7 linked regions of the Homo sapiens genome follow. The protein of the gene in region 6 purifies or fractionates together with the protein of the main gene of each other region. This does not show direct contact. Each region holds a gene or a part of one and is shown on either strand. Other genes may lie near its edges.

What was found.
Region 1: the proteins of P4HA3 (region 6) and PEX14 purify together in Homo sapiens (co-immunoprecipitation; 3 studies listed by BioGRID and IntAct, with this or other methods). This does not show direct contact.
Region 2: the proteins of P4HA3 (region 6) and RSRC2 purify together in Homo sapiens (co-immunoprecipitation; 3 studies listed by BioGRID and IntAct, with this or other methods). This does not show direct contact.
Region 3: the proteins of P4HA3 (region 6) and ZNF444 purify together in Homo sapiens (affinity purification with mass spectrometry; 2 studies listed by BioGRID and IntAct, with this or other methods). This does not show direct contact.
Region 4: the proteins of P4HA3 (region 6) and ZNF687 purify together in Homo sapiens (co-immunoprecipitation; 3 studies listed by BioGRID and IntAct, with this or other methods). This does not show direct contact.
Region 5: the proteins of P4HA3 (region 6) and AGAP1 purify together in Homo sapiens (affinity purification with mass spectrometry; 3 studies listed by BioGRID and IntAct, with this or other methods). This does not show direct contact.
Region 7: the proteins of P4HA3 (region 6) and CASKIN2 purify together in Homo sapiens (co-immunoprecipitation; 3 studies listed by BioGRID and IntAct, with this or other methods). This does not show direct contact.

Annotation. Positions count from the first base shown.
Region 1 is NC_000001.11:10,624,396-10,628,355, reverse strand, and holds part of PEX14 (peroxisomal membrane protein PEX14), read right to left. Parts: coding exon 3,919-3,960; intron 1,085-3,918; coding exon 993-1,084; intron 1-992. UniProt on the Homo sapiens protein: Component of the PEX13-PEX14 docking complex, a translocon channel that specifically mediates the import of peroxisomal cargo proteins bound to PEX5 receptor.
Region 2 is NC_000012.12:122,516,645-122,520,950, reverse strand, and holds part of RSRC2 (arginine/serine-rich coiled-coil protein 2), read left to right. Parts: intron 1-369; exon of another isoform or gene 370-439; coding exon of another isoform or gene 440-447; intron 448-1,899; coding exon of another isoform or gene 1,900-1,921; coding exon 1,922-2,112; intron 2,113-3,520; coding exon 3,521-3,724; intron 3,725-4,306.
Region 3 is NC_000019.10:56,147,716-56,152,021, forward strand, and holds part of ZNF444 (zinc finger protein 444), read left to right. Parts: intron 1-4,306. UniProt on the Homo sapiens protein: Transcriptional regulator. Binds to the 5'-flanking critical region of the SCARF1 promoter.
Region 4 is NC_000001.11:151,288,456-151,292,761, reverse strand, and holds the end of ZNF687 (zinc finger protein 687), read right to left. Parts: intron 4,235-4,306; coding exon 4,056-4,234; intron 3,668-4,055; coding exon 3,491-3,667; intron 3,385-3,490; coding exon 3,222-3,384; intron 3,085-3,221; coding exon 2,755-3,084; intron 2,641-2,754; coding exon 2,528-2,640; intron 2,331-2,527; coding exon 2,189-2,330; intron 2,048-2,188; coding exon 1,553-2,047; 3' UTR 586-1,552; downstream 1-585. UniProt on the Homo sapiens protein: May be involved in transcriptional regulation.
Region 5 is NC_000002.12:236,129,173-236,132,604, forward strand, and holds the end of AGAP1 (arf-GAP with GTPase, ANK repeat and PH domain-containing protein 1), read left to right. Parts: 3' UTR 1-2,621; downstream 2,622-3,432. UniProt on the Homo sapiens protein: GTPase-activating protein for ARF1 and, to a lesser extent, ARF5. Directly and specifically regulates the adapter protein 3 (AP-3)-dependent trafficking of proteins in the endosomal-lysosomal system.
Region 6 is NC_000011.10:74,301,260-74,305,565, forward strand, and holds part of P4HA3 (prolyl 4-hydroxylase subunit alpha-3 isoform 1 precursor), read right to left. Parts: intron 3,154-4,306; coding exon 3,011-3,153; intron 1,334-3,010; coding exon 1,110-1,333; intron 1-1,109. UniProt on the Homo sapiens protein: Catalyzes the post-translational formation of 4-hydroxyproline in -Xaa-Pro-Gly- sequences in collagens and other proteins.
Region 7 is NC_000017.11:75,508,696-75,513,001, forward strand, and holds part of CASKIN2 (caskin-2), read right to left. Parts: intron 1,196-4,306; exon of another isoform or gene 1,030-1,195; intron 1-1,029.

The sequences.
Region 1 (3,960 bases), on a different chromosome or scaffold from region 6:
GAAACAAGGACACCCCATGCAAGGCCCACTAGGGCATCAGCCCAGGAGGATGGCCCACAGTTGCGGCTCCCAGGACAGAGTGGCTCCTGGACACTGGACTTTCAGTTTTAAAAAACCAGAACAGTCCAGGCACAGTGGCTCACACCTGTAATCCCAGCACTTTGGGAGGCCATGGGCAGATGACCTGAGGTCGGGAATTCAAGACCAGCCTGGCCAACATAGCAAAATCCCACCTCTACTAAAAATACAAAAATTAGCCGGGAGTGGTGGCGGGCGCCTGTAATCCCAGCTACTCGGGAGGCTGAGGCAGGAGAATGGCGTGAACCCGGGAGGCAGAGGTTGCAGTGAGCCGAGATCGTGCCACTGCACTGCAGCCTGGGCAACAGAGCGAGACTCCATCTCAAAAAAAAATAAAAATAAAAATAAATAAAACCAGGACAGTCCCAGGCAAAGCAGGACAAGTTGGTCACCCTACCTCTGAGGCTGCATTGGTGACAATGTGCTGTCGCTACAGAGGGACAACAGGGGGACAACCAAGAAGCCGGGGGGCAGGGCCTGCTTCTGCCCACGTCTTCAGTTGTGGAACCCTTCCAAGTACAAAACACAAAGACTCTCCCGCAGGGGCTTTCCCTGGGACAAAGCTGTCACTGAGTGGTCACCTGGAGCTCAGGAAGGAGGAGCCAAACCAGGAAGTTCTCCTCTGCTCCAAGGGCCCTGCTTTTTGGCTCAAGCTGTCCCTGACCAGGTCTTCACAGGCCTGGGAACTGTATTTCAAAACTTGTGTGCCACAGACCGTCACCTCTGGAGTGGAGAGGGTGTCAACTGGGGAATGAAGAGAGAAGCTCAAAAGGCCCCAGACTCAGTGCCTGAGTCGCCCAGACAGATGGGGTCCTTGGGGGTGGGGGTGGGCGTCATGCCCCTCCCATGCCCCAGAGCTCCCAGTCCTCCTTTCCAGGCCCGACCAGAACAGGGTCCCCATTCCTCCCTCCTACCGATTTAAAAGAAGCCCTTTCAAGGAGTTAATTTCGGACTTGAGTTCGTTGATATTCTGGGACTCCAGGATCCAGTTGGTGGATGTGGTGGCCTGAAAGCAGAGCACAGGGAGGCTCAGGGCGGGCGCCTTGCGGCACGGGCGGGGCCTGCGGCTGCAGGAGGACCTGGGTGGGGGCAGCAGGTGGGGCCTTCTGGGTCTGTTCTGGGGAACCCGGGGGAAGGTTCTGCCACTGCCCACTGCCTGCCACGTCTCTGGATGACAACATCCTTAAACATTCCCACAGCTCTGTTTGGACATCTGATGACGTAAGGAATCATTACGTGTTTTTAGGTGACATAATGGTATCGTGGGCGTCTTTTAGAGACATGCGGAGGCGTGCGGGTGCGGTATGAAGTGGGATGATGTCTGGGATTTAAGATGGTCCGGGGTGGAAAGAGGAAACAGCCACCATCTCTGACAAACCCCATCCTTCCATGCACACCTTTCCCCTTTGAAGGTAACACTGTTTTCCAAATAAACTTCACAGAACTACATCTTACTTCTGGAAAATCTTGCTGGTATAGACGGGGAAGAGGACAGCCAAACCAGAGGTCCCCAAATGCGAGCTGCTGGTGGCAACCTGCTTGTGGCATGTGCACAGAGGACAATGCCACGAGGCCTCCGTGTGAGGTCTACCTCGCCCAGGCTGAAGGCCACCCCAGGCCATCTTTAAGTGCACAGATGAATATTGCCAGCTCTCCTGATACTGCTCCCCCGAGGTGGGCAGAGGGGACGTTCCCTGGCTGTTCCCTACCAGTGTGCTGTGGGCCGCTGGCTGGCTTACAGAGGCCTGGCCTCTGACGTGGGGTCGGGGGCTGCTGTGGGCTCACCCCAGCAAGCAGTCCAGCTGGCACACCTTAGCAGGGAGAAGTCCTTCAGAGGGCCTGTAGGTCTCAGGAAGGAAAACCCGGGCAGTCTGAGAGTGAGTGCGTGTCACCCACCACCCCCAGACACAGCCCCTCAGGGTTCCTACTCCAGACCGCCAGACAGGGAGGACCCAGGAGCCACGGCTCTGGCTTCTCTGAGACCTTGAAAGCTACAGCAGCCCATGAACAAGGGCACAATTTCCACTCACTGGCCTACAAGGGACTCAGATTTCCAAACGCATATGGTGCCAGATGCCAGGATTTAGAAATAAAATCTGACATCTGGGGCTTTTTAGCCAGCCTCTTTAAAAAACAGTTGTAGAAAACTCATAGCCTTCAGTTTTATGTAGGTTTTTTAATTACTTAAAGCTCTTCTTTTTAATTTTTTACAGTGCTCCAGTAGGAGTTTGGAAGCCAGATATAAAAACTTACATTACAGCTGAGAAAACACAGCTCTGGGTCTTTGGTTTATGGGGTAACCAAAGTCCTCACACATACGCGTTTAGATGCCAAGCCAGTGGCCCCATGCAGCTCGGGAGAGAAGGCTGGGGTGGGCCAGGGACAGCGGCAGCAAAGCCAGCTCGAGGGACTCTGAGGGGCCCAACCCCTCTCACCACCAAGCACATCCCGGGCCCCCACTGCTTCTTAAACACAACATGTGGTCTTAATCTCAGGCGTAAGGCCTGAAAACAGTTTTCCAATTTCCGGAATGGCTTCTGGCCACAGGCAGAGCATGGATCCAAAAGATGACCTGACCCAGGAGAGCAGGCAGGGCTGTCGCTGGGCTTCCTGGTGCTTTAGGGACCGGCCACCCGTGGAGAACACGCATTGCAGTGGCTGGAGGTGGTCACCAGTACCCACAGCCATCCCAGGAGGAAGAGCAGGTGGCACCTCTGTGTGTGGTTTGGATATCCAGGGGGGAGATTCCTGGGACCCTCTTCACAAGAGACACCCCAGACTCCATGGAAAGATTGTCATTTTCATGGTTTTTGCAAATGCAAAAGATCTGAGTGCTGGCTCAAGCCAACTCGTACGCTAGGAGTGGCTTTCCCTGGGTAAGCAACTCGGGATGGGACTCTCCAGAGCCCAGGCTGTGGGGGCAGACAGGGAGCAGTGTCCGCCGGCCACAGAGCTGTGGGACAAGGGACAGAGAGAGGAGCCAGTGGGTGTTCTGGAGCTACCAGGCCACTGTCTCCTGGGCCCGGTCTGTCTGATACCGCCTCAGGGATGACCTCTGTTACCCACCCACAGAACCTAGGCCTGCAATCCTGCGAGCTGGCTGGAGCCAGGCACCCTCTTGAACCCATGAAGAGCCCCAGGAATTAGGTGCCGTTATGGCTCCATTTTACAGATGAGGAGACTAAGACTCAGAGAGGTTAAGTAACTTGCCTGTGGTCATACAGCTAACAAGTGGCAGGACCAGGATTCAGCCTGATCCTGGAAGCTGCCACGCCAAGATTTCTTCACATTTGGGCAGTGAGGCAAGGACACTGCCTTGGGAGTTGGTTCTGGCTCCCTAGGATTGCCAGAACCCATGGAACCTGAGTCTAGAGAACCTGCCCGCTGCACTGCGGTGTGGATGGGGCTGGTGCTGGTGAACTGACTGCGACTCGCTTCTCCCCTGTCTGTTCCAGAACCCCTCCTGGCCATGCTGTGACCTGCAACCTAACTTATAGGTAGAGACCGTCCCATGTCTACACAGAAAGCCTCCAGAGCTGCGGGGATGTGGCTGCCATGAGATCTCCACAGGCAGAGGGTAGCTTTTCCTTCCTCCTGTTGGGAGGTGACATAGAGAGAGAAAGGATGGCCTCGACAGTTAAACGTCACACTGACTGCCCAGCAACAGCCTCCTGTCTCTACAAGGAGAGAAAGGGCAGCATCGGCCACGGCTGTGTAACCACTGTGAGACTGGGGCAAAGTCCAGCTCCCGAAGGTGGCAAGCCCGGCCCAAGGGACAAGAGTGAAGGGCACATGGGACAGACCTGGGCCTGGAGGGCCCTGTGCAGCAGAGACAGGTACCTTGGCAGCGGCCAGCTCGTGGGCAAGCTCCTGGATCTTCTG
Region 2 (4,306 bases), on a different chromosome or scaffold from region 6:
TAGTTCAGTTTCCCTAATAGTAGTATTGAATTTTGAAATAAAGGTTTGAGTGAGGGACAGCTGAAAAGGTGGCGGTGACACCAAAACTTGAGGAAAAAGAAAGGCAGCAGCTGTATTGCAAAGGAGTTACTTGTTCACCCACCTGAGAAGACAAAGAATGAGCCAATAAGGAAGTGTAGAAGTAGTAGCCAGAAAGGGAGAAGAGTCTTGTGGGGGCTGGGTAAGGGACTCCTAAAACAAGAGTGGGCAGGGACTTCACCTCTTCCCGTAATGGAAGCTCTGTTAAATTTTTAATTTAGGAGAGTTTTTGTGAAAATGACTATTTTGTTTAGCTCACATGATAACATTTCTATAATAAATCATACTCAGCGTGCTTATGCGCGAAGAGACTGAACTGAAGACGCTGCAGACTCAGATAGCAAAATAATAAGCCTACTTCATGATAAGGTAACTATTAGTCATTCAAACTCCTATTTCCCTTAAATATATCTTAAATCAGTTAAGGGTTTTAATGTTTTTTTTAAATTAATAGTAATGTTATGTTTGAAAAACTGGTTTGAAATAAACTTTAAAACCTTTAGAAGTTTAACCACTTAAGACTTTTCCAGTCTGCCTCGTTATAGCAAAACCAAGGAAAATTTCTTTTCTAAGCTCCTATAGAGAACTGGCAATGAAACTAAAATTTAATTGTGTCTCCAGGTCTCTTATTTTTCTGCAAATAATAAATTATGTACTATGATCATTTTCAGATAAATCATCATGCATGTTCCAAAATGATTGGCCAAGTTTTATTTTTAAGAAACATTAATCGTGAGTGGAAAGAAACATGCTATGGCCTTTTGGGAGACAGTAGTGTCTTATTACAGTGGAAAAGTGGTAGCGTGGGCATCAGAAAAACATGGGGAAGGTTCAGCTCACCCATGTAGCTTTGTAACTTTAGATCTTAGTTATACATAAAATAAGGGGATTAAGTTAGAGGATCTTAGTTTCCTTCCAGAATTAAAATTTAGTGATTCAGAGATGTCTAGGATTTTAAACTTTCACTACAAGATGAATTTGACAGATCTTCCTGTAGGGAACTGTAGTATGTAGCACTTCTACTTTGGTATTTGGTAGGATGAGACTTGATCATGCAGTTAATTTGAGCTGAGTCTCTGAATGCACATGTGAAGGCCTTGGTCTTTTTAAAGTGTGGGGGCAGTATGTATTGTGTGATGGCATGTGGATTGTTATACCTAGTTTGGTTTCTTTAAAATTGAAACATACAGTTGCCATTTCTACCCTAGGTACATGAAGTGTAATACTCCTCTAAGCCTATTGGGATACTGCAAGATGAAAAGTGATTGCTTCACAGTTTAGACATTGGGAGGAAAATCAAGAGCTGTCTTTTAGAGGATGTAGCAGGCAGTATAACTGTAAAAGGGACACTGCATCTCTGTGTAAAATAATTTGAAATTATAGAAAATATTAGTACTTAGTAATAATTATATTTAGCTACCTAATTGAAATGCGTTTCTGGTGCACTTTTTGTGTCATTATCTCCATTACTTACTTAAACTTAACATTATGTAATCTGGATTTAGAAGTTGATGTATATACATGGTCTGTATTCTTTTAGATAAACATAAGGGATTCCTCTTTTGTCTGGCATAATGGCTTTTCAATATTTCAACTTTAAAAATCATTGTTTCTGTTGTATTGAAAATATTTTGGGGAGGAACTACATTTTGGGTGTTTATAGTAAAAAAAATAGTAATTACATCTGCAACATTTGGGTGATGTGAAACTAGATCTTTTTTTTATTTGCCACACACTCCTAAGGTTACTAATGTTGCATCACAACATTTTTGTCTACTGATACCCATACTAACTCTCTTTGTTGCACTATTTTCCTGAAAGAACCAACTTCTTCTTAAAACAGGGAAGAAGACATGAATCCAAAGATAAATCCTCTAAGAAACATAAGTCTGAGGAACATAATGACAAAGAACATTCTTCTGATAAAGGAAGAGAGCGACTAAATTCATCTGAAAATGGTGAGGACAGGCACAAACGCAAAGAAAGAAAGTCATCAAGAGGCAGAAGTCACTCAAGATCTAGGTCTCGTGAAAGGTAAGTCATGTTGTATTATAATGTAGTACCTTCTAACAAGTTACATAAAGTTTCTCATTGACCCAGCAACACCCAAAAAAATCATAATTAGGGAGTTTTTCTTGTTCGTTTGTTTGGGTTTGTGGTTTTGTTTGTTTTTTGCCTTTGGGCTTTGCTTTCTCATCATGCAAAAATGGTTTCCAAGAATGGGGTGTAAGGGATGACTAAATCTCAAGTGCCTAGATTTCTTTTCCCTTTTTTTTTTTTGACACGGAGTCTTGCTGTGTTGCCCAGGCTGGAGTGCAGTGGCATGATCTCGGCTCACTGCAACCTCTGCCTCCTGGGTTCAAGTGATTCTCCTTTCTCAGCCTCCCAAGTAGCTGGGATTACAGGCATGTGCTACCATGCCTGGCTAGTTTTTGTATTTTTAGTAGAGATGAGGTTTCGCCATGTTGGCCAGGCTGGTCTCGAACTCCTGACCTCAGGTGATCCACCTACCTCGGCCTCCCAAAGTGCTGGGATTACAGGTGTGAGCCACCGTGCCCAGCCTAGATTTTCTTTTTTGAGATGGTCTCTCTGTTGCCCTAACTAGAGTGCAGTGGTGTGCTCTCAGCACACTGCAGCCTCTTGTCCTCCAGGGCTCAAGTGATCTGACCTCAAGCCTCCCAAGCAGCTGAGACCACAGACATGCGCCACCACACCCAGCTAATCTCTTAGTATTTTTTTGTAGAGACGGGTTTTGGCCATGTTGTGCAGGCTATTCACGAATCCCTGGGCTCAAGCAGTGTGACGGCCTTGGCCTCCTGAAGTGCTGGGATTTCAGGAGTGAGTCACTCTGCCCAGCTGAGATTTTTAACCACTTAATCTGTCTGGCACTGAAAAAATCATATTGTTAAACTGTGTGGTTTAAGCTGATAAACAGTCCTTTTGCATCATCGATGGTGATGTTGGTGTTTGCTGCTAAACTGCAATCTAGATTTTTTTTAATGTTGGAGTATAGATAAAAAGATTTTTGAGAAACTGGATCACAGCTCAAATTTGTGAATGGTTTTTGGTGGGGTTTTTTTTGGAGAATTCTGTGGGTTGTGTGTGGTATCAGACTCAAAAATTTTTAGTAGATAAACTAAAGTATTAAGATTTGTAACTACTGTGGGAAGAGTATTAAACGGAAGCTTAAATTTGGGTAGGATGCATTGAACGCTTTTGACATGTTAATAGGTTTACTATGTTCTAGGACAAATTATCAAACAAAATGAAGGGTTCGTTTTCAGTTAGTATTTCCTTTGAAAATCTCGCTTATTTCTGTAAATAATATAGTGCAGTTACTTGCTTGTCTTTATTGCGTTACTACAAGTAACTAATTCATGATGTGTATAAATGAAACAACACAACTTTTAAGTAATTACAAATTTGTGCACTTTAATTTCAGACGCCATCGTAGTAGAAGCAGGGAGCGGAAGAAGTCTCGATCCAGGAGTAGGGAGCGGAAGAAATCGAGATCCAGAAGCAGAGAGAGGAAGAAATCGAGATCCAGAAGCAGGGAAAGAAAACGGCGGATCAGGTCTCGTTCCCGCTCAAGATCAAGACACAGGCATAGGACTAGAAGCAGGAGTAGGACAAGGAGTAGGAGTCGGTAGGTGACCATCATCCTGAATAAAATTTAATAGGACCCTCAGAGAGTCTGTTTATCTTCCTCAGTAAGAGAGTATTAAAATTGTGAGTCACAATTCTATTTATAGATTATGGTAAAATTATTTTAGTCATTACCTAACGTATGAAGAACACACCTAACCACTTGAATAGCATTCACAGGTATTCTCGTGATTGATAAATCTCTTGCGAAGTGCAGGTATGAATAGGCCTATTAAAATGCAGTTGTTGGCTAGGTGTCGTGGTTTACACCTGTAATCACAACGAGGCGAGCAGATTTTTTGAGCCCAGGAGTTCAAGACCAGCCTGGGCAATATGGTGAAACCCCATGTCTACAAAAGATATGAAAATTAGCCTGGGGTGATGACCCACACCTATGATCCCAGCTACTTGGGAGGCTGAGGTGGGATAATCACTTGAGCCCAGAAGGCAGAGGTTGCAGTGAGCCAAGATCATGCTGTTGCACTCCAGTCTGGGTGACAGGAGTGAATCCTGTCGTAACAAACAAATTCAGTTGTGTTCAACACTGGATTTGTTGTATTAATTTTATTATCACAAATAACTA
Region 3 (4,306 bases), on a different chromosome or scaffold from region 6:
CCAAATTCATCTTGCTTTTGGGCTGGCCTGAGTCCCCCGGGGCAGGCAGACCCTCCTTATCATGCGTGAGGCTCCAAGGGCTCAGAGATGACTTCCCAGGGGCAGAGGGCAAAGCCAGGCCTCTCTGGGCAGGTTTGGTTTCTTGACCACACAGCAGGCAAGGGCCGACTCACGTTCTGGGTGAAGTCTTGGTGCACAGCCACACCCACCCACTCATGTCACCTGGGGCTGACACTTGCCACCGTGATGACCACAGAGGGCCCGAGGAGCTGGAAGTGTTGACTGCCTGGCCCCGTCAGGGAAGTTGCCAGCCTGGCTTAGAGTCCTGTCGGGGGATGTGTTATGTGAGCTGCACATGCCATCTTAAGTGTTCTAGTCAGCACGTTAAAAAAAGGCAAATTTACTTCATGGACCCCAATGTGTTCAAAATACCATCCTTTCAGTAGTGGCACTCTCCCATGGCTGGTGGCTGCTGTGTGGGGCCTGGGTGATGAGCGGTGGGCAGCCACGCAGAGACCTCTGAGAAGAGTGGTCCAGGCCACGAGAGCAGCCAGTGCAAAGGCCCTGAGCCACCTCGAGCGGCACAGGGGCCCTGAGTGAGGGGGTGTTTGCGGCCAGGCCTGAGTCCCCAGTGGCAGGAGGGTGAAGAGTCAGAGCAGTCGCGTGTTCCTCATAAGTGCGTACCGAGTGCCTGCTGGGTGCTGAGATGTAGCAGCAGAGAGGGGGCATCTCGGTGAGGCAAAGCGAGCAAAGCCTTCAGTCCATGGCAGCCGGGCGGCCTTCCTTCCTTCCAGAGGGAGCAGCTCCCGTCAAGGCTGCCAGTGGCCTCATCCGTCTCCCTTCTCATGCGGCCCGACCAGCCCCCAGACACTCCCCCCTCTTATTGTCTGGGATACAGCTCGCCCCTCCTCTGCTCCTGCCTCCTGGCACCTCTGTGCTGGCTCTGGCTTCTCTATCCTCGCCCTCCTTCCGGGTCATTGTTCCCAAAAGTGGGTTGTAACAAATCACAAACGCAGCGGCTTACAAATCACAAACGCAGCGGCTTAGAAATCACACAAGTCTGTTACAGTTCTGGAGGTCAGAAGTCCAAAATGGTTTGGTCTCATGGCCCAAAATCGAGGTGTCTGCAGGGCCACGTCCCTTCTCAAGTCTCCAAAATCAAGGTGTCATCTGCAGAGCCACGTCCCTTCTCAAGGCTCTAGGAGAGAATCCGTTTCCGGCCTTTTCCAGCTCCTAGAGGCTGCCCGCATTCCTCGGCTCATGGCCCTTCCTCCGTCCTCAGAGTGCTGCACTCCGACCTCTGCTTCCATCCCCCATCACTCCTCCGACCTTGACCTCTGCTTCCATCCCCATCACTCCTCCGACCTTGACCTCTGCTTCCATCCCCCATCACTCCTCTGACCTTGACCTCTGCTTCCATCCCCATCACTCCTCCGACCTTGACCTCTGCTTTCATCCCCATCACTCCTCCGACCTTGACCTCTGCTTCCATCCCCCATCACTCCTCTGACCTTGACCTCTGCTTCCATCCCCCATCACTCCTCCGACCTTGACCTCTGCTTTCATCCCCATCACTCCTCCGACCTTGACCTCTGCTTCCATCCCCCATCACTCCTCTGACCTTGACCTCTGCTTCCATCCCCCATCACTCCTCTGACCTTGACCTCTGCTTCCATCCCCCATCACTCCTCTGACCTTGACCTCTGCTTCCATCCCCCATCACTCCTCTGACCTTGACCCACTTAGGTCCTGTGGTCACTTATTTATTTATTTATTTATTTTACTTTAAGTTCTGGGATACATGTGCTGAACGTGCAGGTTTGTTACATGTGCCATGAAGGTTTGCTGCACATACCAACCTGTCATCTAGGTTTTAAGCCCCACATGCCTTAGGTGTTTGTCCTAATGCTCTCCCTCCCCTTCCCCCACCCCCCGACAGGCCCTGGTGTGTGATGTTCTCCTCCCTGTGTCCATGTGTTCTCATTGTTCAACTCCCACTTCTGAGTGAGAACACATGGTGTTTGGTTTTCTGTTCCTGTGTTAGTTTGCCAAGGATGATGGCGTCCAGTTCATCCATGTCCCTGCAAAGGACATGAACTCATTCTTTTTCATTGGTGCATAGTATTCCATGGTGTACTGTGGTCACGTCTTAGGTCACCTGTGATGACATTCGGCCCGTCAGGATAGTTCAGGAGAGTTTCCCCATGTCAGTGCTTAACTCCCTCCCATCCACAGAGTCCTTGTTGCCCTGAGACAGCAGATGACAGGTTCTGGGGATCAGACCGTGTACATCTTTGGGGCCATTATTCTGTCTGCCACAGAGGCGAGGTGAATGCAAGGTGAAGTGGGGGTGGAACAGAACCAACGTGGAATCTGTGAGCCTCGGGGTTTCGCCCTTTCCAGTTTCCATGACTCCTCAGAACAGGACCTGGCACATGGGTGCTGTCTAGGTAGATTTCAGCCACTGTTACCACTCTGAGCTCATGCCATCTGTTTTGTTGGCATTAAAATGTTCTTTTAGGAAAAGATGGTAAAAGTAGGTGGTGGTTATTGTTGCTTTTAATGTATATATCTTGCAAAATAAAAAAAAATCTTCCATTCGGGGATGCAGTGAGAGTTCTGTTGGTTCAGTGAATCTAAAAGTCGGGAAATCACCAGGCTCCAGGCCGTCGGGACTCTCCTGCGTTCTCTGCTTGCTCCGAGGCGAACCTCTCACTGTGGCTCTGGGATGTCTTTAGCATCTCTCTTGTATCTGTTACTCTCTCTTTTTAATAAGGGCAGATCTCAGGTTCAGAGCCTTCTCCTATCAGTGTCCACACAGACGGGAATAACACTGCCGTGAGTGATGGAATTTCCCATGACCTCTCTCTCTGGCACATGATACTGGCTTTCCATTTCCAGCAATGATACAACATGGTCTTAAGTCAGTGTTATTTTAGTTTTAGGTAAAAGTAAAGAAGAGTAATAAGAGCCTGGGCGATAGCCATTGTAGCTGACGGTGGTGTATAGACAGCTGACATCTGGGGGCGCTGCTGTGGATTGGGGTTTCTTGGCATCTGGTCTGTGGGAGCTGACGGTGACGCATAGACAGCTGACATCTGGGGGCGCTGCTGTGGATTGGGGTTTCTTGGCATCTGGTCTGTGGGAGCTGACGGTGGCGCATAGACAGCTGACATCTGGGGGCGCTGCTGTGGATTGGGGTTTCTTGGCATCTGGTCTGTGGGAGCTGACGGTGGCGTATAGACAGCTGACATCTGGGGGCGCTGCTGTGGATTGGGGTTTCTTGGCATCTGGTCTGTGGGAGCTGACGGTGGCACATAGACAGCTGACATCTGGGGGCGCTGCTGTGGATTGGGGTTTCTTGGCATCTGGTCTGTGGGAGCTGACGGTGGCGCATAGACAGCTGACATCTGGGGGCGCTGCTGTGGATTGGGGTTTCTTGGCATCTGGTCTGTGGGAGCTGACGGTGACGCATAGACAGCTGACATCTGGGGGCGCTGCTGTGGATTGGGGTTTCTTGGCATCTGGTCTGTGGGAGCTGACGGTGGCGCATAGACAGCTGACATCTGGAGGCGCTGCTGTGGATTGGGGTTTCTTGGCATCTGGTCTGTGGGAGCTGACGGTGGCGCATAGACAGCTGACATCTGGGGGCGCTGCTGTGGATTGGGGTTTCTTGGCATCTGGTCTGTGGGAGCTGACGGTGGCGCATAGACAGCTGACATCTGGGGGCGCTGCTGTGGATTGGGGTTTCTTGGCATCTGGTCTGTGGGAGCTGACGGTGGCGTATAGACAGCTGACATCTGGGGGCGCTGCTGTGGATTGGGGTTTCTTGGCATCTGGTCTGTGGGAGCTGACGGTGGCGTATAGACAGCTGACATCTGGGGGCGCTGCTGTGGATTGGGGTTTCTTGGCATCTGGTCTGTGGGAGCTGACGGTGGTGTATAGACAGCTGACATCTGGGGGCGCTGCTGTGCATTGGGGTTTCTTGGCATCTGGTCTGTGGGAGCTGACGGTGGTGTATAGACAGCTGACATCTGGGGGCATCTAGTGGGAGCTGACCGTGGTGTATAGACAGCTGACATCTGGGGGCGCTGCTGTGGATTGGGGTTTCTTGGCATCTGGTGTGTGGAAACTGACGGTGGTGTATAGACAGCTGACATCTGGGGGCGCTACTGTGGATTGGGGTTTCTTGGCATCTGGTGTGTGGGTCCTCGCCTGTCCTCAGAGTTTTCACCGAGACATTGCCGGATGAGAAGGAGAGGACAGCCGAGGAGAGGCTCCTGTACTGGTAGAAAGCAGTAGAGCT
Region 4 (4,306 bases), on a different chromosome or scaffold from region 6:
TACCCAACCATCCACCCAAGGGAAATGGAAGGCAAGAAACACGAAGGATCATGTGGTAACTGCGAGAGCTTGCTGAGGGGTGGGAGAGCCAGCTGTGGGGTCCAGACTTGTTGGGGCTTCCCTGCCCCTCCTGGTCTGTGTCAGTATTACCACCAGACTGACTCCAGGACTCACTGCCCTCCAGAAAACAGAGGTGACAAATGTGAGGGACACTGGGGCCTTTCTTCTCCTTGTAGGGGTCTCTCAGAGGTTCTTTCCACAGGCCATCCTCTTATTCCGTTCTGGGGCCCAGGAAGTGGGGAAGAGTAGGTTCTCGGTACTTAGGACTTGATCCTGTGGTTGGCCACTGGCCATGCTGCTGCCCAGCTCTACCCCTCCCAGGGACCTACCCCTCCCAGGGACCGACCCCTGGCCCAAGCTCCCCTTGCTGGCGGGCGCTGCGTGGGCCCTGCACTTGCTGAGGTTCCCCATCATGGGCAAGGAAGGGAATTCCCACAGCCCTCCAGTGTACTGAGGGTACTGGCCTAGCCATGTGGAATTCCCTACCCTGACTCCTTCCCCAAACCCAGGGAAAAGAGCTCTCAATTTTTTATTTTTAATTTTTGTTTGAAATAAAGTCCTTAGTTAGCCACTTGTGTCATTTCCAGGTTTTCTGGGGGAGTGCAGGGGGAGATGGGTGATGAGGTATGAACGGATGCCTCAGTGTCCAAGATACAAAAGGCACTACATAGAAGTTTGCTTTTTCCCTGCCTGTCTTGGTCACTACCACCTCTTCCCTGAGAAGGGCGGGCCTTCCATGTTCTCTCACCCGCTTCAACTCCACATTGTCCAAGTCACAGAAAAAGAGAGGCCTGAATGGAGATTCGACCACAAACAGTTTTAATGGTCTGGTTTTCTCCCTAGTTCCCCAACTGTTTGTTAGTATTATTATTACTACAAGAATAAAGGATTCCTGAGAGCCTGTCCCCTCCTCTCCTGTGGCCCCCTTGACAGGACTCATCCCTACCAACCCCCCACCCCCCCGCCCCGGATTTCTGGGGAAAAAAAGAAGTGAAAGGCACTGCAGGGGTAGGGGGCTTGAGTGCCAGTGAGTTGGGGTTGGGCGGGGGCGGGGGCGGGGGTGGGCACTAGGGCAGGGCCCGGCCTAGAGGAGGAAAGTTCCAGTCCATGCCTGAAGGAATTGTGGAGAGGTGTGTCCATCCATGACACCCCCATCAGTCCTTCCCTGAACCTGTCTAGCAGGCATACCTAAGTCCCATCCTCCCACCCCCAGGCCCACACTGGGGGTTCTGCAGCAGGAGCATAAAATTAATTAGTGTTGGGCTCAGAAAGGAGGAATGGAGGGTCCACTCTACTAGGACTCCAGGGCCAAACCCAAAGGGAGGTTGCAAATAACTAGAATAATCCTCAAATGCTCTTCTTCTTCAGGTTGGAGAGACAGGAATTAACAAAATATTAATGTTAATGAAAACTCCCCAGCCGAGGGATCAGGCAGCAGTAGGGAAAACCAGGCTCCAAGAGGAAGGGGCTGGTCAGTCCCAGGCCTTGGAGACTAGTTGTCCCCAACAGCCCCCTGCCGAGCCCTGATGAACGCCATGCCATGCGTGCGGAAGTGGGTCTTGAGGTTTAGAGGGCTGTCGCAGCTCTTGCCACAGACCTTACAGGTCAGTGGGCCTCCAGAAGCAGGCAGGGGTGAGTCTCCACCATCGGGGTCAGACCTTGATGGAGGGGCCTCTTCCTCCCCATCCCCCAGCCCCAGGGCACTGGCTTTACCCACACCCCGTCTCTTCTTGTGGCTGATGAAACGGTGTCGGCTCAGGGAGCCAGGGGAGGCAAAGCACAAGCCACAGTCGAGGCACTGCTGGGCACCATCCTCCACCCTCAACCCCATCATGAGGCTCTGTTCTGTGGAGCTGCTGCTCCGGTAGCGCAGAGGGCCATGGCCTCCAGATCCAGGTCCGCCCCTGGGGGACTTGGCTGGCGGTGTCGTGCTGTCAGGCTCCTCACTGCAAGAGTCAGAAGACTGGCGGCGTTTCCGACCTGGCCCCTGAAGAAAAGTGGAAGAAACTGGGCCTTACCACCACCCCTACTGTCCCTGGCACCCCCATGCTCGCTTCCTGAGGCCATGGTCTCTGCCTTCCAGTTTCCCACTCAAAGCCCTAGCACAGCAGGCCGGGCCTCTGCCTACCTGGGCTCTGGCACTGGAACCCCGAGCCAAGGTGGTCCCCCGGCCAGGGGACTGGGCCCCAAGCTGCAAGCCGTGCCGGACCTGGACATGTTTCTCTAGGATCAGGCGGCTGCTGAAGGTGCGTTTTCCCTCTGTGCAATACCTGAAATGGGAGAGGACAGGATGGCAGCAGCGGCACAGCCCGAAGGCCAGGGCCCTTGCTTCTGAGGAGGGGGCTGCCAGAGCAGAGGGAGACCCCAACCATCAGGCCACTTAGACACGTCGCAGGTGCACAGGTACTTTGGCATACAGGGAGAGTCACGTGCTGGGCAGGAAGAGGAAGCGGGGAGCAAGACTTACCTGCAGGGGTAAACTCGCTTGATGCCCTCGTGATTAACTCTGACATGGCGCCTCAGGCTGGGGGCGGAGCAGAAGGAGCGCTCACACAGGCGACAGGGGAACTTTTTCACTGACTAGGAGAGCAGGGGTAGATGTCAGAGCCAGGCTCCAGGACCCCGTCCCCACTGTCACACTGGCAGTCCCAATGCTGCCCCCAGCCCATGGTACTCCCCTTGGGGCCCACTCACCTTGCCATGCTCCTTCTTCATGTGGGCCACGTATTCATCACGCTCAGGGAACCAGGAGTGACACAGGCCACAGGTCCAGCCTCCAGGCCCCCCACCCCCACCCTTGAGGCCTTTGCTCCCTAGTTCCCGCCGAGGCCGTTTGGCTGGACGGGGGGGCTCAGGGGAGCTGGGTACTTCCTCCTCTTCTGAAGATGAAGACGACTCCTCAGTAGCAGGGGCTGCCCCTCCCTGAGAAACAGCCAGCTCCTCAGGCTCAGTCTTGGGGGTCAGCAGGGCACCCCCGGCCCCTTTCCCAGCAGTCTCCTCCAAGCGCCCAGACTGATGGGTGTTCTGTGAGAGGAGACAAGGGAGGTTGCTGTTGTGGGGGAGGGCCTGGCTATGCCAAAGCCCCCCACTTCTGAAGTATGTGGCCCCAGCCCCAGGTCAGTACAGCTAAGCACCCATTCCCCATCCCTCTGCTCCTGTACCTTGAGATGTTCCAGCATGGTCCTTTTTTGGGCAAAGAGCAGAGGACAAGACGGGCACTTAAAGACACTGACACGCTGGGGCAGCAAGTGCTGGTCGAAGTGTGAGGAGAGGAGGGGTTTGTGAGTGAAGACTGTGTCGCACATGGCGCACTTGTAGATCAGCCTGAAGTGAGGACAGTGCAGACATCAGGCAGGGTTGGGTGCAGCCCCTCCCCTCCTGCGCCCCACCAGCCCTCCCTGGCCCAGCCCGGCCCTCCCCCGGGCCTCACTTGGCCTGCTGAGTTTGGAAGCTGGGATGCTGGGAGTAGAGGTGGGCATGGGCACTTGGCCCAGACTTGAAGGCCATGGGGCAGATGGGGCACTTGTGGAAAACCTCGCAGTGCGACGTCTGGATGTGGGACTTGATGGAGTTCACACCCCCAAACACCACTGAACAGCTGGGGCACCTAGGGAGGAAGCAGGAGGCCCTGTGGTGAGGTGGGAGGCATCTCCATGCCCACCCCGGGACCATACATTTATTCTCTGGGACTGGGTAGACTACAAGAAGGAAATCAGTAGTGGAGCATGAGCAGGGTGGAGAAAGGAGAGAGGTGCAGAGGCTGTGCCCCAAGGGAGGCTGCCAAGGGAGAGCTGGAGCTCCAGAGGTGGCCCTGCTTCCCCCCATCTCCATGGGGGACGACGGGAAGGCAGGACGTACTATCTCAGGGTTGAGTCTGGCAAAACAACAGGGCTGAGGGATATAGCAGGGAAGATAGGGGATCTTGAAAGGCCATCTGAGGCTGAGGCTAGGACACACGAAACCCTACAGTTCTATGGAGGAAGGGTCCGAGGCACCTGTATCCTACACGGCGAGAGACGTGCAGACAGGCCTCCCGGAGATGGGTCTGAAAATTGGCTTGCAGGAAGTTGCCCCCACACTCAGGACAGACATGGGGGGGTCGATTCTTATGCATGCGCTGGTGGGCGCTGAAGCTGCAGCGATTGGGGAGCATCATGGGGCAGGTTGGGCACACCTGTCGAGTGGGTTAAACAAGGAAAGTCGGTGAGGAGTGTCCTGTCTCCATTACTTCTAACCAAGCCCCCAA
Region 5 (3,432 bases), on a different chromosome or scaffold from region 6:
TTCAGGGAGCCCTTGTGGTCATGTGTCTTTAATGCTGCTCCCCATGCCCCCAGGCCAGGCCAGCACGCTCAGGTGATAGCGAGTGGGGCCAGGAGACCCCCCTGCCCTGCCCAGTGGACAGATCTGCCCCAGCCCTGCTGTGGGGACGGGCCCTCTATCATTTAACCACATACATTAGGTTGCTTTTCAGCAAAATGTCAGCTTTCCTCCCATTATGCAGGAGAGAGAAGGGGCGCAGGTGTATCTCCTTAGAGTACACCTTGGAGCTGGATCACTAAGAAACAGTCCTCAGACTGGTCCTTCCGACACAGGCAGAGAGTGAACTGGATCGCTGGCCCCTGGGATGCTGCGCTGTCTGTGATTAGAGAGAAGTGGCCAGTGTCCCGTCTGTGATTAGACAGAAACCCCTGTGGCAGACTCCTCCCCTCTCCATGAAGAAAGAAATATTTACTTAGATATTACTGTTTCAAAACACAAACTTTATTCCCCTTAGAGAAGAAATACTGCCCTTAAATAGACTGTTGAAATATTAATGGCCCCCCCATTTAATCAGTGTGTCTGCGGCTTTCTTCGCGTCACATGTCCGCATTGGCAGGTGATTCTGGAAAGGGATTCTGGGAAACCAACAAGTCTTTTTTAAATCTTTGAGTTGTATGAGAAAGTATTTAAGTTCACCAGTGTAGTAAACACCCACCCCAGAGCAGCGGTAAGCAAACCTAAATCTGAAAACCCATTCTTACTGTCTTTCACCATGAGATGCTGGTTTTGGTGTAAAATGACAGCACTTGGTTTGGGGTTTTGCACCTGTTGGGTAGAACTGTTCTTGTCTGAGGTCCTCACCCTCTACAGATGGGCCTCAGGGCCTGGAGGTGGGCAGATGGGGCCAGAGTGGCCAGCAGAGACTTGCATGGGCTCTGAAAGCCCCAGAGCTCAGGCCTAAGGCTGCTAGGTGAGACCAGCAGGCAGCTGTGGCATCCGACCTTGGGACGCCCAAGCTGGGCAGCCGCTCCATGTGCCCCAAACAGGATATCCTCATGAATGTGAGGAGAGGCTGGCTCAGGGCTTGGTTTTCATTTTGGCCTGGCACAGGGTACCTGTAGGGAGCACTCCCCCAACCTGAGGATGGTGAAACCATATGATAGAGACTCCTTGTCGAAGTCCACATCGGACTGATCTAGAATGCCCCGTGGGGGGATTGCATGGCCTTTGCCTTGAGATGCAGGTGAAAGAAAGGAACCAAACAAGGCATGAGTGTGTTGGGGAATCTTCCCAGTGGAGCAAACCCCCTTAACACACCAGCTGTTGGGAACAGCTGCCCCTAAATCCAATTAAACCCTCATCTCCCTGGTGCTGAACAGTCTACACTGGCCCAGGAAGCTAACGTCTGAGCCGCTTGGAGAGCTTTGGTAAACAGAAGACACTGGAAGCCCACTCGGTCAGCAGCTGGGCATGAGGATGTCAGGGGCCTTTGGACTTGAGGAAGGACAGTCCAGGTGCATGGAATCCTAATGGGCCTCATGCAGACACTGGAAGCAGCCCAGCCCCCTGCCCAATACCACAGCCCTGGGGTGTCCCCTGACATTCCTGGAGGTCCCTGGGCAAATGCATTTCCTGCCTGGGTTCTCAGGGTAGGAGAACAGAGAAGGCTCCAAGGGTGTTGGGAGTGAGCCAGGGGCTGGTCTGGGGAGTGGGTCTCACGCACTGCTCAGGTTGGCACGAGGGACCTCCCCCATCCCAACCCAGCCCCAAGGGTCCCAGCAGGGCTCTCAGCATGGCTGTTTTGAGGGTACACAGGTGGCTGGAGAGGGGTGGGGCAGTTGCATGGTGGGTGGCAAAGTGTGCATTTAGAAGCTGCTTCGTGGCGTTAAGAACGGGGGGAGAGGGACCAGCACTGTAACGTTAGAAATAATTCCTTCTTGCAGACTTGAAAAGCATCAGTTTCCCTCCCACGGCTGGGTTTTTGTGTCTGAAATACATCTAATTCTCCAGACTGCAGCCCCTCTCAGCCCCGAGCACCTGAGCGCTGGGGAGGCCCTTATTGAGCTCAGCCTGGAGAGGGGAGGGTCGCACGGGTCCCGGGGGCAGGTCTCCTGCACTGGCTCTTCCCTTCTGCCAGCTTGGAATTTGGTTCTCATCTTGCCACAGGGGTGCGTTTCCTAAAGGGCAGCCGGAGCAGCTCAAAGGTGACAACTGAGATGCATTTCTAGGCAGGGGCAGGGAAGGCCAACCCACCTTGCAGCCAGTTTTCTGTTTCTGTAAATAGCAGTGTATAGAGATGGAAGGGCAGCGTGGGTGTATCCACAGATGGGTTTAGGTTTTTTTTTTGGATGTTTTCTATTACCTCATTCAGCAACTTTATGTTTCACAATGACTCAATGATGCTTTATTTATATTGTTTGTACTGTAATTAAAACCATTGACAGACATTTCACTTTGCTTGTTATTTCATATGATCTTGTTTTGATTAAATATGCCAGTTTGTATTTTCCTGCCTTGGGATTTTTTTGTGTCCGCTGTACAGTATTCTAAGGGAAAAAGAAAAAGAAAGATGTGTAAAGTAACAGAGAGAGGTGGCTATGGTGTAGAGACCTCTTTCTAATAAAGAAATGAAAATATGTCTACACCGCTTCCGTGGAGTTGTTGTTTTTTGTTTTTTGTTTTTTTTTTTTTTGGTGGCGTTGGTCATTTGTCACAACTAATTGTGTTTCTAAGCCCAGGAAAGGTAAATCAGAGAGAAAAGGGGCTCTGTCTGCTGCGGGCAGGGATTGCCCCAGGCCCAGGCTGCCCCAGGCCCGAGGGACTCAGCACACGAGTTCACAGACGGAATGAAGAAAGAGACCAGGAGTGTCTCTTCTGACTTCTTCCTTTACAAGGACAGAAACTCCAAGAGAATGTTCTTTGCCCAGCCAGGGTTGACTGGGCCCAGAACTTCCAGATGCTTCTGTATCTTTGCACTGTGCCACACTGCCCCAGGTGTGTCGTAAGAACTATTCCCAGCAGGTGGCTAGCAGTAGAACCATCCCAGGACTCTATTATTAAGACCGTTATTATCATTAATATTACTGTAATTTTTGCCTACAAACTACATTATATCTTCCCCTCCAAAAAAAAAAAATGAGAAAACTGACCAGGCCTGGTGGTTCACACCTGTAATTCCAGCACTTTGGGAGGCCAAGGCGGTTGGATCACTTGAGGTCAGGAGTTCAAGACCAGCCTGGCCAACATGGCGAAACTCCGTCTCTACTTAAAATATAAAAATCAGCTGGGCATGGTGGGACATGCCTGTAATCCCAGCTACTCCGGAGGCCGAGGCAGGAGAATCACTTGAACCCAGGAGGCGGAGGTTGCAGCAAGTCAAGACCATGCCACTGCACTCCAGTCTGGGCGACAGACCAAGACTCCATCTCAAAAAAAAAAATGCCACCACTAATT
Region 6 (4,306 bases):
TCTCTCTCAAAATAAGTGAATAAATATAGAAAGAAAGATTGCCAGTAAGACTTCCAGGAAGTGACTTACTAAATTTTCAACATACGGTTTTACTTTCAGAAAGGCCTCACTAATATGTTAGTACCATACATTAAACTACTTTACCTGGCTTAAATTTAAATCAGCCATGAACATGATGATTGAGCTCTGATTCCACTCAGGATCCCAGAAAAGAGAAAACAGTATGTAGAGAGACTCAAGCAGCCTACTCTGCCTTAATTTGGAAGACTGACTCCCAAAACTTGGAATCAGGACACATGAGACCCACTCCCAGATCTGTTGATGAATACTGTAGGAGTCAGGAAAAATACACCTTACTGCAATAAACATCTTCAAAGTTAAAATGGATTTGCTCCATTGCTTTTTATAGCAAAGGCTGGCAAAGAGTATATTACAAAATGATCTCACGTGTGATTACAACTTATAATCAAAGATCAGTTAAATACCTCAGATGGGGGGCGGGGGTGTTCCTGAAGTCTATTTCCTCAAGTAATGTTAAAGTGAATGGCCTTAGATTTTGGACACTACTTTAATTTTGTACTTCCAAATGCTTAGGAAATGTTGCATTGGATTCCAGAAAGTCTCAGGAGGCTGTTTCCGTGATCTTACCTTTCCATCACCATCTCTTATCCTTTTCCCCAACCTTGCGTCCCTGACCCCCTGCTTTCCCTTTCTACCCAGGAGTTCATGCACTGGCAGGGTGCTATAGTTAGGGTGAACAAAGGACCATTTTTCCTAGTTCATGTCTGTTGTTCTAGCATAATTAATAACACCCCTTTCAATCTCAAGAGTGTTCTAAGTATATAAACACCTTAACTACTATGGAAAGGGCCTGAGATTTGGAGTCAAAAGACTGGGTTCAAGCTTTAGTTCTGCCCTTAAAATTGCATAATCTTAGGGCAAGTTATTTACCCTCTCTGAATCTTGTTTTCTTTCTCTGAAAATGGAAATGATATCAAATTTCCAAGTTTACTGTAAGTATTAAAAAGAAGTAAAATCAATCGGTACATAGTTATTTTATCCATAAGAAACCAGAGCCAAGCAATTGGCCCTCTCTTGAATATTGTTACCTTGCCAACTTGGAAGCAGTCATCCCCTGTGAGAGAAAAGAGCCGTTTGGGGCTGTACAGGTCAGTGATGGCAGAGCCAGTGACTCTCTGAAAGACACCTCGGGCCAGGCCTTTCACATTGAGCATGTACACGTCCTGCAGCCGCATCAGGGCCCTTGCTGCTCCCTCAAGGTCCTCAAAGGCTGGAAGGTCTTGCTCCACCTTCTCATAGCCATCCTTCAGAGCTGTAAAAGTAGTAAAAACATCAACCCAGCATTCAAGAAACAGGAGTTGGGCATTTAATACATGTAAGGCATGACCACCTGTTCAAATATTTAATGACATCAAGTTGGATTTGTCTTTGTGTTCCCAGAGGCAAGCACAGTTCCTGGCACAGGGTGGATGCTTAATGCAATTCTGAATGAGGAACATTCAGAATGAGTGAATGAGGAATAAAAATTAAGGCATACAGCTTCATTATATTGTCCTATCCTGTATGTTTACAGGAGTCTCACTCTTTAGGGAGACAACTCTTCTTTTTCTTTTTCTTTTTTTCTTTTTCTTTTCTTTTCTTTTTTTCTCTTCTCTCCTCTTTTCTTTCTTTTCTTTCTTTCTTTTAATAGAGATAGGATCTTGTTCTGTTGCCTAGGCTGGAGCACACTGGCATGATCATAGCTCACTATAATCTTGAATTCCTGGGCTCAAGTGAGCCTCTCACCTCAGCCTTCTGAGTAGGCAGGACTTCAGGCACACGCCATCACATCCATCTAATTTAAATAAATTTTTTTGTAGAGACAGGGTCTTGCTATGTTGCCCAGGCTGGTCTCAAACTTCTGGCCTCAAGTGATCCTTCCAACTCAAGCTCCCAAAGTGTTGAGATTATTGGCATGAGCAACCACACCCAGACTCTTCTCACTGTTAGCTTTCCAAAAATCAACAAACTTCTTTTTTTTTTTTTTTTTTTTGAGACAGGGTCTTGCTCAGTCGCCCAGGCTAGAGAGCAGTGGCGCAATCTCAGCTCACTGCAACCTCCACCTTCTGGGTTCAAGCAATTCTTGTGCCTCAGCTTCCCAAGTCTACAGGCATGCGCCACCATGCCTGGCTAATTTTTGTTATTTTTAATAGGTTTCGCTATATTGCCCAGGCTAGTCTCGAACTCCTGAGCTCAAGCAATCTTAGCCTCCCAAAGTGCTGGGATTACAGGCATGAACCACTGTGCCCAGCCCAAAAGTCAACACTTTTTTTTTTTTTGAGACAAAGTCTCGCTCTGTCACCCCAGGCTGGAGTGCAGTGGTGCGATCTTGGCTCACTGCAACCTCTGCCTCCCGGATTCAAGCAATTCTCCTGCCTCAGCTCCCGAGTAGCTGGGATTACAGGCATGTAATCCCACGACTCCCCGGTAATTTTTGTATTTTTGATAGCGACAGGGTTTCACTATGTTGGTTAGGCTGGTCTGGAACTCCTGACCTCAAGTGATCAGCCCACCTCAGCCTCCCAAAGTGCTGCAATACAGGTGTGAGCCACCGCGCCTGGCCGTCAACAAACTTCTTACAGCACAAAGTAGAATAAATTAGGAAAGTGATCTTGCTATAGATGACACTGTAGTGACAATTTAATGAAACAGAAACTACTAGAAGACCGTTATTTTCTATACATATATAAATGGAAGGCTTGTACTTTGTCACAGGATTGTAGTGAACATCAAATGAGACAATTGATATGAAAGTGCTTTCTAAGGTATAATCATATAAACTGATTAGCAAGCGGGCCTAATTCTTTGTGCTAGCTAGAGCTAAGGATATTAAGTAATACCCACCTACTCCATTACCCTTTGAAATCACATCCCAACAGAATCTCTCTCCTTACCACCGAGTCAGGAGATAGAATCTTCTCTCTTACCCTCCAGCCCTCCTCCTCATTACCTCGGATGTTCTCACTGGCCTCCAGACTATGTACCACATTCCTCCAGTCAGACTGCAGGCGTTTGATGAGAGTAAATGCAAGCAGAGGGTTAGCCACAGGGGTTGTTGAATCCTCATGCAAAGAAAGTACCTTGTCGTAGAATCTGAAAGAAAGGAGTAGAATGATCTCACCTCCTGATACAACCACTACACCTAGGGAAGGCTGGCATGGTGTGTGTACATTAAGAGTAGCTAACACTGACATGCTGAACCTCTTGAGATTCACATAATAGTCCAACCAAAAAGCCATGCAAGCCCAAAGAATATGAAAACTATAGATACAACAAAAGTAGGTCCACTCTTTTGTTCACTGAATGAGTCAGTCTATATTAATCAATTACTGTATTTCAGGCACCATGCTAGAGATATAAAGGCAAGACAGGGTCCAGCTCTCAAAGGGATCACAAAGTCTTTTTCTCCTGTCATCACTGTATATGCAATACTTAGTATCTGGTAGAAACTCAAAAACACTATTGAATTAATTATAACCACTGTGATATGTGCTATATAGTGGTCCCCAACCTTTTTGGCACCAGGGACTAGTTTCATGGAAAACAATTTTTTCCACGGACCGGGGGGTTGGGGGATGGTTTCGGGATGAAACTGTTCCACCTCAGATCATCAGGTACCAGTTAGATTCCTATAAGGAGCACACAACCTAGATCCCTCACATGTGCAGTTCACAATAAGGTTCACGCTCCTATGAGAATCTAATGCCGTGGCTGATCTGACAGGAGGTGGAGCTCAAAGAGTAATGCTCCCTTGCCCACCACTCACCTCCTGCTGGGGGGCCCGCCTCCTAACAGGCCATGGACTGGTACCGGTCCCTGGCCCAGGGGTTGGGGACCTCTCTGCTATGAGAGAAGTGAGCATATAATGCTGCAGCTGTGCAGGCAGGGCAGCTCATCCAGGTGGGAGTTAGAAGGGGGAAGGAAAGGCTTCCAAGAAGAGATGGCATGTGATCTGAATCTTGAATGATTTGTTAAAATACTGAAAGCTATTACTTATTGAGCTCCTACCATGTATTGGCCTGTTGGGTGCTCTAAATAGATTGTCTCATTTAATTACCCCCCACCTTCCAACCGACCCTTAGTGTAGATTTAATTTTACCCATTCCACAGAGAGGAAACTGAAACAAAGCCACACTGTTAGTAAAGGGCAAAGCCAGGATGGAACCCAAGTCTGACTAACTCCAAAACCTGGGTTCGCAGCTGATTATGCTATATGGTTTCTTAAGGAGCTAGAACAAAGAAGAGA
Region 7 (4,306 bases), on a different chromosome or scaffold from region 6:
TCAAGGGCAGGCCACGATGCCCAGTCCTGGGGCATCCCAGAGGAAGGTGACATTAGACAGACCTCTACCCAACACTGGCTCTGCCAGGCACCAGCTGTGTGACTGTGACAAGTCATTTAACCTCCCATGCTCAGTGTCCTCAACTGTAAAATGAGCTGATCAGAACCTGCTCACGGGGGCTGTGAGTACAGTGCCTGACCTTGTCATATGCAAAGACAGGAGCTCTCAACATCTAGCCCTCCTGACATGTGGGCAAATACCATCCCGATGTTAGGGCGATGGTCCTCCAACAAGAGCTGGCACAGGGCCCATACTGTCCCCACTGGGATCTCCATGGGTGCTCAGACTGCCCGGGGAGTCACTGCTACTGCTGACTCCACACCTCCAGGGTCTTGGCTGAGATGTCCATGCCCTGGACAAGGACTCTGCAGGTTGGTGGCAAGAGGAGCTGGGGCCACCCCCTCTCGGGGCAGGGTTCAGGCAGGTGTGCTCCCTGCGAGAGCCAGGGAACTGGTGGGAGTGGCTCTTGAAGTGCTGGGGAGGGAAGGAAGGCCTGTCATGGGTGGCCCCTGCCTCCTGCTAGAACCCACCCTGCAGGGAAGGAGTGGGCCTGGCTTGGCCAGGCTGGGCAGAGTGCCAAGTGTGCTGGCCCAGGCCTGCCCCCCAGGCTCTGGTGGACCCCTGAATACCCCAGTAGCCTGGGGAAGACAGGGCTTCATTCCAACAGGGAGGGGAGGGACCAACCTGGCAGTAGGGAACATGGCACAGGGAGGGAGGGGACAGCTACATTGAGGGCCAAACTGAAGGACACTGTGCCACAAAGGTAAAGACAGAGCCAGGGAGGGACAAAGCGCTAAAGGGGTTGTGGCCACTGGGAAGAAACACAGACCTCCATTTTCCTCCAGTCCCCTTGGAAAGTCCTTGTCATACAGAACCATTTGAGGCAGTAGAAAGAAGAGGGGCTCTAGAAGCGGAAGTGCACAGTTCAAATGCTCACTCTGGCTGTGTGACCCTGGCCTGCCACGGTACCTCTCTGAGCCCCAGTGGAGACAATGCGGTCAGCAGGGAAGAGACACAGAGCACCCTTCAAGCTGCCCACTCTTCCATTAGCCCTCCTCTTCCAACAGCCTGGACAGTTTGGGATGAGGCAGCTGGGTGGCGGGATGCAGTCCCTCCCGAGAGGAGCAGGACAATGTGACAGGCAGGACAGGAACAGGGCAAGGGCCAGGCTGGGTGGCTCCGTTCTTTTCAGAACAATAGCCGGAAAGGCGGTGGGGAAGAGGCTCAGAGTGACCGGGCTGGGGACCCTGGCAGGAGGGCAGAGGGTCCAGGTTCCTGGCAGTGACTCCAGGCACTTCCCCTGCGGTACAACCTTCTTCCCGGGCCTGGCGCTGGGGGTGGAAGGGTGGCTCCTGATTTAGGCTCCCGGGCAGAGGATGTGAGCTCAGCCGGCCGCCCCAGCACACCCCATTTCCTCTGGCCAAAGAAGGAGATTGTTCAGAAAAGGGAGTGGTGCGGCGAGGGGCGGGGAGCAGGGCCAGGGCAACTGTACCCCTCTTCTCTCAGCCACCTGCTCCCTGAAGAGGACCCGGGTGGGGGCAGGGAATTGGCCTGATATCAAATGCAGGAGGCTGAGGGAGCATCTCCCACCTCCCTGTTCTCTCTCTGGATAGCTATAAAGCGCCAGCTAAACCCCAGAAGAAAAAAGGGGAGTCCTGACGCCTCCCTTTTAGCAGTTTCCCTTGCCTTCTTACGATATGGAGCAAGAGTCCCCAGCCTCACTTCTGAGAACTGCAGTAAAATCATGGGGAGAACTTTCTGATACACAGAGTCCCAGGCCCTCTGTGATGAGTCTGATTTTGAGGGGAGTCCAAGGAGTCTACACTTTTATTTTTACTTATTTATTACTTTTTGAGACAGGGTCTTGCTCTGCTGCCCAGGTTGGAGTGTAGTGGCACGATCTCGGCTCACTGCAGCCTTGACCTCCCCGACTCAAGCGATCCTCCCACCTCAGCCTCCTGAATAGGCGGGACTACAGGCATGTGCCACCATGCCCAGATCATTTCTTAATTTTTTTGTAGAGATGGCATCTTACTATGTTGCCCAGGCCAGTCTCAAACTCCTAGGCTAACTAGGAGTCCTGGGGGACTCCTTCCTGTGCACAGGGCCAACAGGACTATAGGTGTGTGCCATCATGGCTGGCCCAGTCTGCACTTTTGAAACAATCCCTAGGCCAGCATGGTGGCATTGCCTGTAGTACCAGCCACTCAGGAGGCTGAGGTGGGAAGATGAGGCAGGAGGATCACTAGAGCCCAGGAGTTCAAGGCTGGGCAACATAGCGAGACCCCATCTCTTTCCCTGTCCTTTTTTTTTTTTTTTTTTTGAGACAGACTCTTGCTCTGTTGCCCAGGCTGGAGTGCAGTGGTACAATCTCAGCTCACTGCAACCTCTGCCTCCCAGGTTCAAGCGATCCTCCTGCCTCATCCTCCTGAGTAGCTGGGACTACAGGCACTTGCCACCACACTGAGCTAATTTTTGTATTTTTAGTAGAGACGGGGCTTCACCACGTTGCCCAGGCTGGTCTCGAACTCCTGACGTCAAGTGATCTGCCCACCTCGGCCTCCCAAAGTGAGACCCTATCTCTTTAAAAAGAAAAGAACAGAACAATCCCTAGGTAATACTGATGGGCAGCTGAGTGCAGAGCACAGGGGACAGGGTGCAGCTTTGCCTCTGCTCTGCCATGCTATGGCTGTGTGACTTTAGGCAAGTCACTAACCCTCTCTGAGCATCACTTTCCTTATCTACAGAACGGATATTGAAATACCTATCTCACAGGCAAGTGAGGAAATTATAATATTTCATACACTATAAGGTTTGCAAATGTCACCTTGTGATCTCACTTTTGTCACCAGCCTCTCCAGCTTCTCAGAGGACTGGGAGGGGAGGCACAGTGCCAGGGCCTCATAAGGAATCCCAGGCCCCAGTCATGCTGTGCCTGAGCCTACAGCCTGCGCAGGGTGAATTCTCCACTTTGGGACTGAGGGAAGGGACCTCCTTCCCCACAGACGCTTCCCACTGGGCACAAGGGAACTTCTCGGAGCCTAAGAGCCCAGCTCTGCAGTTCCCGCCACTGGCCTCCAAACCCCTCCCGCCTGCCCTCCTGAGGGCCTCACTTTGAGGACCCAGAGCGGTGAGGCCAGCAGCAGCTTGACCAAGGCCCCACTGGGCAGGTTGCCAAAAACAACACAGAGGTGACAGAAGAGGGGAGTGGCTGCACTGCTGGACCTTAGGGCCCTCCCCTGGGACCTCCTTAGCACCTCCCCAGTGGCACCCACCCTGTGTCCACTTCCCTAGGCACAGAGACCACCCCACAGCTCCACCTCTCCAGGCCCTGCGTCTCCTGCCCCAGTGTGCTAGTGGATGCATGAGGTTAAGGCCCTTCCTCTGGCACCCATACCCCAGGTGTTCAGGTAGCCTGGGGGACTCCTTCCTGTGCACAGGACCGAGGTGTATCTTGGGGCTAGAGCCCCTGAACTCCAGAGGAGACCTTCCCATCCAGGGAACTCCTCCTGCCTCAGTCTGGTGGCAGGAACCACCTCCTGCCTATGCTGATCTGGGATCTCAAGGTGACAAGTCCAGCGGCCTCCTGGGACAGCCCAGAGAGCCCTCCCTGAAGCCCAGAGGTCTATTCTCCCTGTGGGGGGTCGCACCACAGAGGTACCCAAGACATGGGGCTCAGGTGTGGCCGCTTGTGCATGGATCCCCCACAGCCCGGTCAGGTCTCGAGGCTAGGTGAAAATCTCCAGTAAATGAGCTCTGGCCACACCCCACCAGGACACACATGTCAGGGGAAGAGAAACTTTAGCAACTTGTTAGAGAGTGTTGAACTTTTTTTAAGCAGTAGAATTCCCTTTTTAAAAGCTATCTCGTGGCCTGGTGCGGTGGCTCATGCCTGCAATCCTAGCACTTTGGGAGGCTGAAGCGGGTGGATCACCTGAGGTCAGGAGTTCGAGACCAGCCTGACCTAGATGGTGAAACCCCGTCTCTAGTAAAAATTAGCCAGGCGTTGTGTCAGGCACCTGTAATCCCAGCTACTCGGGAGGCTGAGGCAGAAGAATAGCTTGAACCCGGGAGGCAGAGGCTGCAGTGCGCTGAGATCATGCCACTGCACTCCAGGCCGGGTGAGAAAGCAAGACTCCGTCTCAAAAAAAAAAAACAGCTATCTTATAGATATCCTCTTAAGACACGAACATAGAGGTGCTCTGGTTGAAATGTGTGCGTTTGAGGTTGGGGGTAGGGATGAAGT